Linked DNA regions of Homo sapiens. The protein of the gene in region 2 purifies or fractionates together with the protein of the main gene of each other region. This does not show direct contact. Each region holds a gene or a part of one and is shown on either strand. Other genes may lie near its edges.

The links.
Region 1: the proteins of RWDD1 (region 2) and DNAJC2 purify together in Homo sapiens (affinity purification with mass spectrometry; one large-scale study listed by BioGRID). This does not show direct contact.

Annotation. Positions count from the first base shown.
Region 1 is NC_000007.14:103,313,651-103,317,478, reverse strand, and holds part of DNAJC2 (dnaJ homolog subfamily C member 2), read left to right. Parts: intron 1-464; coding exon 465-649; intron 650-1,390; coding exon 1,391-1,491; intron 1,492-1,607; coding exon 1,608-1,715; intron 1,716-2,792; exon of another isoform or gene 2,793-3,828. UniProt on the Homo sapiens protein: Acts both as a chaperone in the cytosol and as a chromatin regulator in the nucleus.
Region 2 is NC_000006.12:116,588,413-116,592,240, forward strand, and holds part of RWDD1 (RWD domain-containing protein 1), read left to right. Parts: intron 1-429; coding exon 430-573; intron 574-1,859; coding exon 1,860-1,992; intron 1,993-2,475; coding exon 2,476-2,538; intron 2,539-3,828. UniProt on the Homo sapiens protein: Protects DRG2 from proteolytic degradation.

The DNA.
Region 1 (3,828 bases), on a different chromosome or scaffold from region 2:
TGTGCATGTTTGAAGGTAGTCTAGAAGGAACAATGTAAATGGTAGAGCTTCAAAATAAAAGAGGCCATTTTGCTATGCCTTCACCTTTTGGTAGAGAATAAATGAGATTGTCTGCAGAAAGGGTGAATATGAGTTTGAAGAGAGGTTTGAAATGGCCTTGTGGATGAATAACTCAGTGACCCACAGACTTGTCAATTAGTGTCCAAGGCTAATGGAAGTCACATGACATGAGTACTGGGAAAATCAGGCAGGCTGTGGGCAGTTCTTGGTCCCTCAGGCAGACCTATGCAGACTGGAAGCCAGAGTGAAAAGCTGGTGCTTCTTTTTGGGTTGGCCTGAGAGGAGTATGGGGTCAGAGTGAGAATGACATTGAGAGTTGAGGACCACAAAGCCCTAGCCAGGAAGAGAGTGTAGAATAGCAATACAGTATACTTCTAAGTCCCTGACTTATGATATTTGTGCAGATAGAAGAAATAAATGAGCAAATCAGAAAAGAGAAAGAGGAAGCTGAGGCTCGTATGCGACAAGCATCTAAGAACACAGAGAAATCAACTGGTGGAGGTGGAAATGGAAGTAAAAATTGGTCAGAAGATGATCTACAATTACTAATTAAAGCTGTGAATCTGTTCCCTGCTGGAACAAATTCAAGGTACTGGTTTTAATGAAACTTTTCTTCAACTCACACTGGAGCCTGGAGATAATGTAGACAGACTCCAAATAGCAGCACTTGTTATCACAGAAACTTGCAGAGATAAATTCTGTGCCACAGCAGAAAAGTGTGAAAAGTGAGGTGCATTTTGAAGCTGTCAGTCTTACCCATTGCATCAGTACACATGCACATATACATATGACAGAATACTTGTTTCTCAGGAAATTGAAGATCATGAGACAAGTCTTGATTTATGTTGGCTTACTCTGTCATGGCTTGTTCTAGGGATTAGGTTTTCTGTAGTTTTTCTTTTACAGTCTTGCTCTTTGTTTTTTCCCACCTCAAGCTGGAGCTTGAGTTTAACTGCAAGAAAGCCCTAGAGATCCAGCGTCCCTAATTCTATAGATGAAACCGAGGCTGTTTTCAGAATGATTGATCTTCTGAAGAAATGTATTAAACTGGCAGTATACACAAATAAGTGGTTTTATTTATGTTGATTTGTACACCAAATCTGTAAGATGTATGGACTTAAAACCAAGATTATCGTTGATTTAAACACATGAAAAGCAAAAACCGTAGTCCAGGCAACAGGAATTTATAGTAGCAGCATAATTAGACCACCAATCTGAGCTCATTCTGTACATACTATAACCTTTCTGCAGTAAAAATCTAATGGTTTTTGTCGTTTCATTTTGTTTTTCCTTACTACTATTCATATTATTGTATAATATATCCTATCAGATGGGAAGTTATTGCTAATTACATGAACATACATTCTTCCTCTGGAGTCAAAAGAACTGCCAAAGATGTTATTGGCAAAGCAAAGAGTCTCCAAAAACTTGGTGAGTTTTGAGAAGTCCATTTGTTACTTTAAACACCTATTTTTAAAATAACTTATGCAATTTAATGAAAGATTAAATGATGATCTGTTAAGTATTAAATTTTTTTCATTTCTCAGACCCTCATCAAAAAGATGACATAAATAAAAAGGCATTTGATAAGTTCAAAAAAGAACATGGAGTGGTACCTCAAGCAGACAACGCAACGCCTTCAGAACGATTTGAAGGTAAATTTTGCTTTTCTAAACGTAGAAAATGCTAGCCATGTATCTGTGCTGCTTGGACGTACAAGACTTAGGGTCTATGTTCAGAATGATAGGGAAATAAAATGTTTAGCAGACTGGAAGCTGTAAGCAAACATTTCCAGGGCAAAGATTTACTTCACCTAACCATTAAAAATGGAGAATTGCAGTTGTTCCATTTCAGATGCCATTAGAGAAGGGGGCTGTTTGTTTTGCTTACCAGGTTTTACAAAACAGTGTTAGAGGATATTATTGGGACTAAAGAATAGTGTTATATCGGGATAATTGCTTGATTTTGAGAAATGTACTGTAATTATATAAGAAAATGTCCTTATGTTTAAGGAAAAACACAGAAGTGTTAAGGAATAAAGAGGCATCATGTCTGTAACTTATGGTTCAAAGTATGTCTGTACATATAGGTAAAAATAATTAGCAAATATGAAAATGTTCACATTTGGGGAATGTAGGCAGAGTATACAGGGATTCTTTCTACTCCTCTAAAATTATTTCAAAATAAAATGTTAAAAATTGTTAGGGTTCAAAACCAGGAAACATAGTAAGACTCAAAAAAAAAAAAAATGTTAGGGTTTGATATTATCTTGGGTGTTGTGATTACTCTAGACCAATGCTTTTCATGTTACAAATCATGACCCATCACTGGGTCATGAAGTCAATTTAGTGTGTTGAATAGAAAATGAGTGTTACACCCATTATATGGGTGGGTATACTTGTGAAACTCTTGATCACGTGTGTCTTTGTTTAGGATGTGATATAAATTTTTTTCTTGCTATGACAAGGTTTGAAAGCAGTTTATGTGGAAAAAGTTCTTTCACTTCATGTTTTGTGAGCCACCAATCCTTTCTTAAACTAATCGCAGAAAGATGCTTTTGGATTAATAGACTTGACTATACATAAGCTGTTTCTTTCTTCTAAGAGTCCCAGTTTTACCTATATTCTTTAATCTTGCTTATTATCCCAAAATTTCAACTTAAAGATATGAGACTTACAGTGTTAATATAGGGGAGGAAAATCATTGCAAAAATCAGCAGTGACTTGTTTGGCTGAGTTAGGCATTATTTCGGTTCTTTTAATAAAGGTAAGTAACAAGGCAGGGTTTCAGAACACCTGAAAGACACTTCTTTATAAAGGAGTTTATTCTCCTGCACCTTTATCTCCACAAAATACAACAGGTATTAGCACACTAGTCTCAGCTCTTTCTTAGGGGGACTTGTTTCCATGTTGGAGGGAGGTGGGCCCTGATATTTGTCCAGTCTGCTTTCTGTGAGGAGAGGTGACCCTGTGAAGGCAAGAGTGACTGGCAGTAGTGCTATGTGGGTATGACTCCTTTGCCTCTTTTATGGAAATGGGAAGGCTCCTTCCTCTTCAGTTGTACCATTAAACAGCAAGCTGGCACCATTTTTTGAATAGTGATTTCTCATAGGAGTTTTGCAACAGTACGTTTAATTTATTTTGGTATTGTGAAGTAACTGGAGAACAGCAGGAAATACTGCCATGTCACTTCCATCTTTTTTCCAAGAGAGGAAATAAAATCTATGGTATTTAGGGCTTTAAACCAATACAAGGAAATTCAACAAAAGACTTCCTAGAACTTAAAAGCTACCTTCAAAAAAGCTTCTTAGGCACCTTAGGTACCATCAAATATTATACAAATTCTCTGCTTTGTTTTGAATAGGTGGTGGTTTTGTTTTGTTTTGTTTTGTTTTTCCTTCTTTAATTGGGAAGGAACTTTGGTTTCTAGGCTTAACTTTTAACAGATCTCACAGGCCGCAGTTTCTAGTAGTAGTCAGGCTACTGGTAGTATTAGTCTGTGTTGTCACTGCATAGTCTGAAATAACTAAATTGCCAGAAGTCCATTAACTTAACCAAATCAGCTTTCTACCACTTAACATTCTACTTTTACCTACACAAGTGGACTGTGTAATACTTAACATCCTTAAGAAACATATTTGTTTCTGACACACATCTTAGATGTTTTCTGAAATATACAAGGTTTAGTTGAAGAACCACAATAGCAGTTATTGGAAGTGTTCAGCATCGGCTCCCAAGATTTTAGCAGATGTGACGAAGAGAACACCAC
Region 2 (3,828 bases):
ATCTAAAGAAAAAAAGGTTGATATAGATAAACTACAGTATTTCTTACATTCTTTATTATTATATTATTTTAGAAATCACTCTGGCCTCAATGCAGTTCATTGTCACAGCTCTTAAAATAGAAAGAACTAAAATACTGAAAACATGCTGGAGAAAGGATGTTACTAGTTACTATAGGAAACAGTTTTCTGAATTTTTACCTATATGATTATTAAACAGAATTTGCTGAAACACAGTATCTGTTTCAGGTTGGATATGGCACATTTACACGACTTTTTAAATAAGATATTATTATTTATATATATGCTTACTTAAATGATCTTTTATTGAACTGTATGAACATAGAATATAACCAAATTAGTAATTATTATAAATGTATGGACTTTTATTTTTCTGAGAGTTATTCCTCATCACCTTTTTGTGTTACACAGGCTGAAGAAAATCTTGGTATGGTGATGATTTTTACTCTAGTGACAGCTGTGCAAGAAAAATTAAATGAAATAGTAGATCAGATAAAAACTAGAAGAGAAGAAGAAAAGAAACAAAAAGAAAAAGAAGCAGAAGAAGCTGAAAAGGTATATTTAAAAGCCTTGTTTTCTTTTATTATTTCTTAAATCAGTTTTCAGTTGCTTGGTTGGGTTTTTTTTTAATCAATAGCAGTATTTTTTTTGGAAATCACAAAAATAAATAAAAGTAAATTTTAGTAAAGTTTCACTAAAATTGTAGAAGTCCCTCATTTGGTTGGTGGCATAGCATGAGTAATGAATGATAATCAGTAAAAAGTTAGTAAAACTCATGCAGATAAGACCAAGAAGTATAAAGATTTCACCTATGATATAGAGCCAGGGGTGTCCAATTTTTTGGCTTCCCTGAGCCACATTGGAAGAAGAAGAATTGTCTTGGGCCATACATAAAATACACTAACAATAGCTGATGAGCTAAAAAAAATTTGCAGCAAAAAAACATGTTTTAAGACAGTTTACGAATTTGTGTTGGGCCACATTCAAAGCTGTCCTGGGCTGCATGTGGCTCTCAGGCTATGGGTTGGACAAGCTTGATATAGAGTTTAGAATTATAAATCCCCTATACTACAGTGAATTAAATAGTTACTACATGTAAAGAAAACCTCATATTTTGAAATGAAGTGATAAAGCAATGATTTAGTATTAGAAATTGATGTGTATTCAAAACATATCAGTTTTGACAGTGTATTAGTTCGTTTTCATGCTGTTGATAAAGACATACCCAAAACTGGGAACAAAAAGGGGTTTAATTGGACTTAGAGTTCCACATAGCTGGGAAGGCCTCAGAATCATGGTGGGAGGTGAAAGGCACTTCTTACATGGCAGCGGCAAGAGAAAAATGAGGAAGAAGCAAAAGCAGAAACCCCTGATAAACCCATCAGATCTTGTGAGATTTATTCACTATCATGAGAATAGCATGGGAAAGACAGGCCACCATGATTCAGTTACCTCCCCCTGGGTCCCTCCTACAGCACATGGGAATTCTGGGAGATACAATTCAAGTTGAGATTTGGGTGGGGACACAGCCAAACCATATCAGACAGCAACAACTTTCTTCTTAACAATGAATAGCTATGGTGGTAAATACAGTGAATACAATGCATATTATCTTTGTTTCTTGTAATAAGAATAAAAAATGGACTACTCCAAAGTATGTTGCCAAAACCAGTGAGAGTAGCCAGTGCAGGCAGAAATCAGTTTAAATATTTCAAAAATTCAAACATTAATTTTTCTGTTTTTCTTATAAGGGGTTATATTGATATGTTTAAAAGATACTGTTAGGATTTATTAAACTGCTGTTTCATTAATCTGGTGACTTTTTTTTTTTATTTCCTAAGCAATTATTCCATGGTACTCCAGTTACAATTGAGAATTTCTTAAATTGGAAAGCCAAGTTTGATGCAGAACTCTTGGAAATTAAAAAGAAAAGGATGAAAGAAGAAGAACAAGCAGGAAAAAATAAATTAAGTGGTATGATTCCCCTGCCATTCCTGTTCTTCCTAAACCCTCCTGTATCATTTTTTATATAGCAAGAGGATCATTTGGTCAGATTTCTGTAAGAAAATAATATACATAGGCATCTAGGACAAAAAGAGAAAACATATCTACCAGATGATGTTTCTCCACTCATAATTTGTAATTAATTTTTATGGCTTATCTTTGATATAAGTATTATAATTACTAGATCCTGTGATAGAAGGACATTCAGGATCATGTCTTAGAAGTAGTAGAGTCAAACCCATTTGTTTTTCTAGTACCCCAAGGCAGACTGGGTTTTCACTTGTTCCATTTTAATGCAGATACATTTCATATGCCACTTAGCTACTGAATAAATTCAGAAATTTATTGAAATTCACAGAAAAAGAGGTTTTCAAATTTGCTTTCTAAGTATTGTAGTGAAAATGGAGAAAAACTATGCCATTTGAATTAAACATACTTTTTTTTTTTTTTTAGGGAAACAACTATTTGAAACAGATCATAATCTTGACACATCTGATATCCAGTTCTTGGAGGATGGTAAGATAATAGTAGAATTCCACATGTGGGACAGGCACAGTAGCTCAAACCTGTAATCCCAGCATTTTGGAAAGCCAAGGCAGGAGGATTGCTTGAGCCCAGGAGTTTGAGACCAGACTGGGCAACATAGTGAGACCCTGACTCTATTAAAAAAAAAAAAAAGAATTCCACATGTATATAATGTAGTCTCTTTAATTTTGAACCATGAAAATCAAACTGAACTTTATTTATTGTACATTTTTCCTCCCAAGGCTGTTAAAAAATACATTTTGGAGAATAAATTCTAGTGGTTGACTAATTTATACATTTGAAATTAATGTTGTAATTCTATAGCAACATATATTTTAAATTTTTTGGTAACTTAAGCAATATCAAAGATAGAAGTAGACAATGATGATCACACCAGCCTCTCACAACTAGTAAACCAGGTTATTGTGACTCAGGTGACCTGTTTTCTTCAAATTTCTAGTATCATAAATCTGTGAAAACTATTCTATGGACTGTCATGGAGCTTGTAAAAACCTCATGTTTAACTCCTAGCATCCCCTCTCACCAGACTTTCATATGACTCTTGCTGTATTTGGAGCATCTAGTCCCTTGTGCTTTTCTTCTACCACCTATACTCTTCCATCTATCCATCATCGATTCATTCAGAAATATTGATTGCACTGTCCTGGCCACTGAGGATACAGAAGAGTACAGTATGGGCCAGTTCTCTCCCCTCGGGAGCTTATGGCCTACATGTGTTTTCTTAAACTGGGCTCCATACTCAGTCACACCTTTGATAGCACTCTAGAGTTCCGTACTTCATTAACCTTTTGTTGTATCTGTCTTGCCAGTTGGGAATCCTTTAGCTTCTGGCCTTTCAGCCTTGTTCTGGATTACCTGCTGAAGAAGGTTAAGAAGCAGTATTGATATAGCTTACTGCTAAATGCTTTCTAATCTAAGCTAGGCCTTTACTGATAGGCAACATTTTAAAGTTTTTGATACCTTTTCCTTTTCTGATTTCAATGTTTTGTCATTTTCACCTGGATTTTTGTGGTAGTTTCTTAAATTATTTCCCTAAACCTCTTCCTCCTCCTAGTGCCATTACCTATTCTATAGTCACTCCCTATGAGATGGTATTCCTAAAACCCATATTTAATCATACAATTTCTCTCCTTAAAATCCTTTGATGGTTTCCACTGCTTATAGGGAGAGAATGACCTACACAATCTTTCTCAAATCTGGCCCTCATCTACGTTACTTTCAGGTATTTTTTCTCAGGAATTTCATCTTCCAGTTAGAATT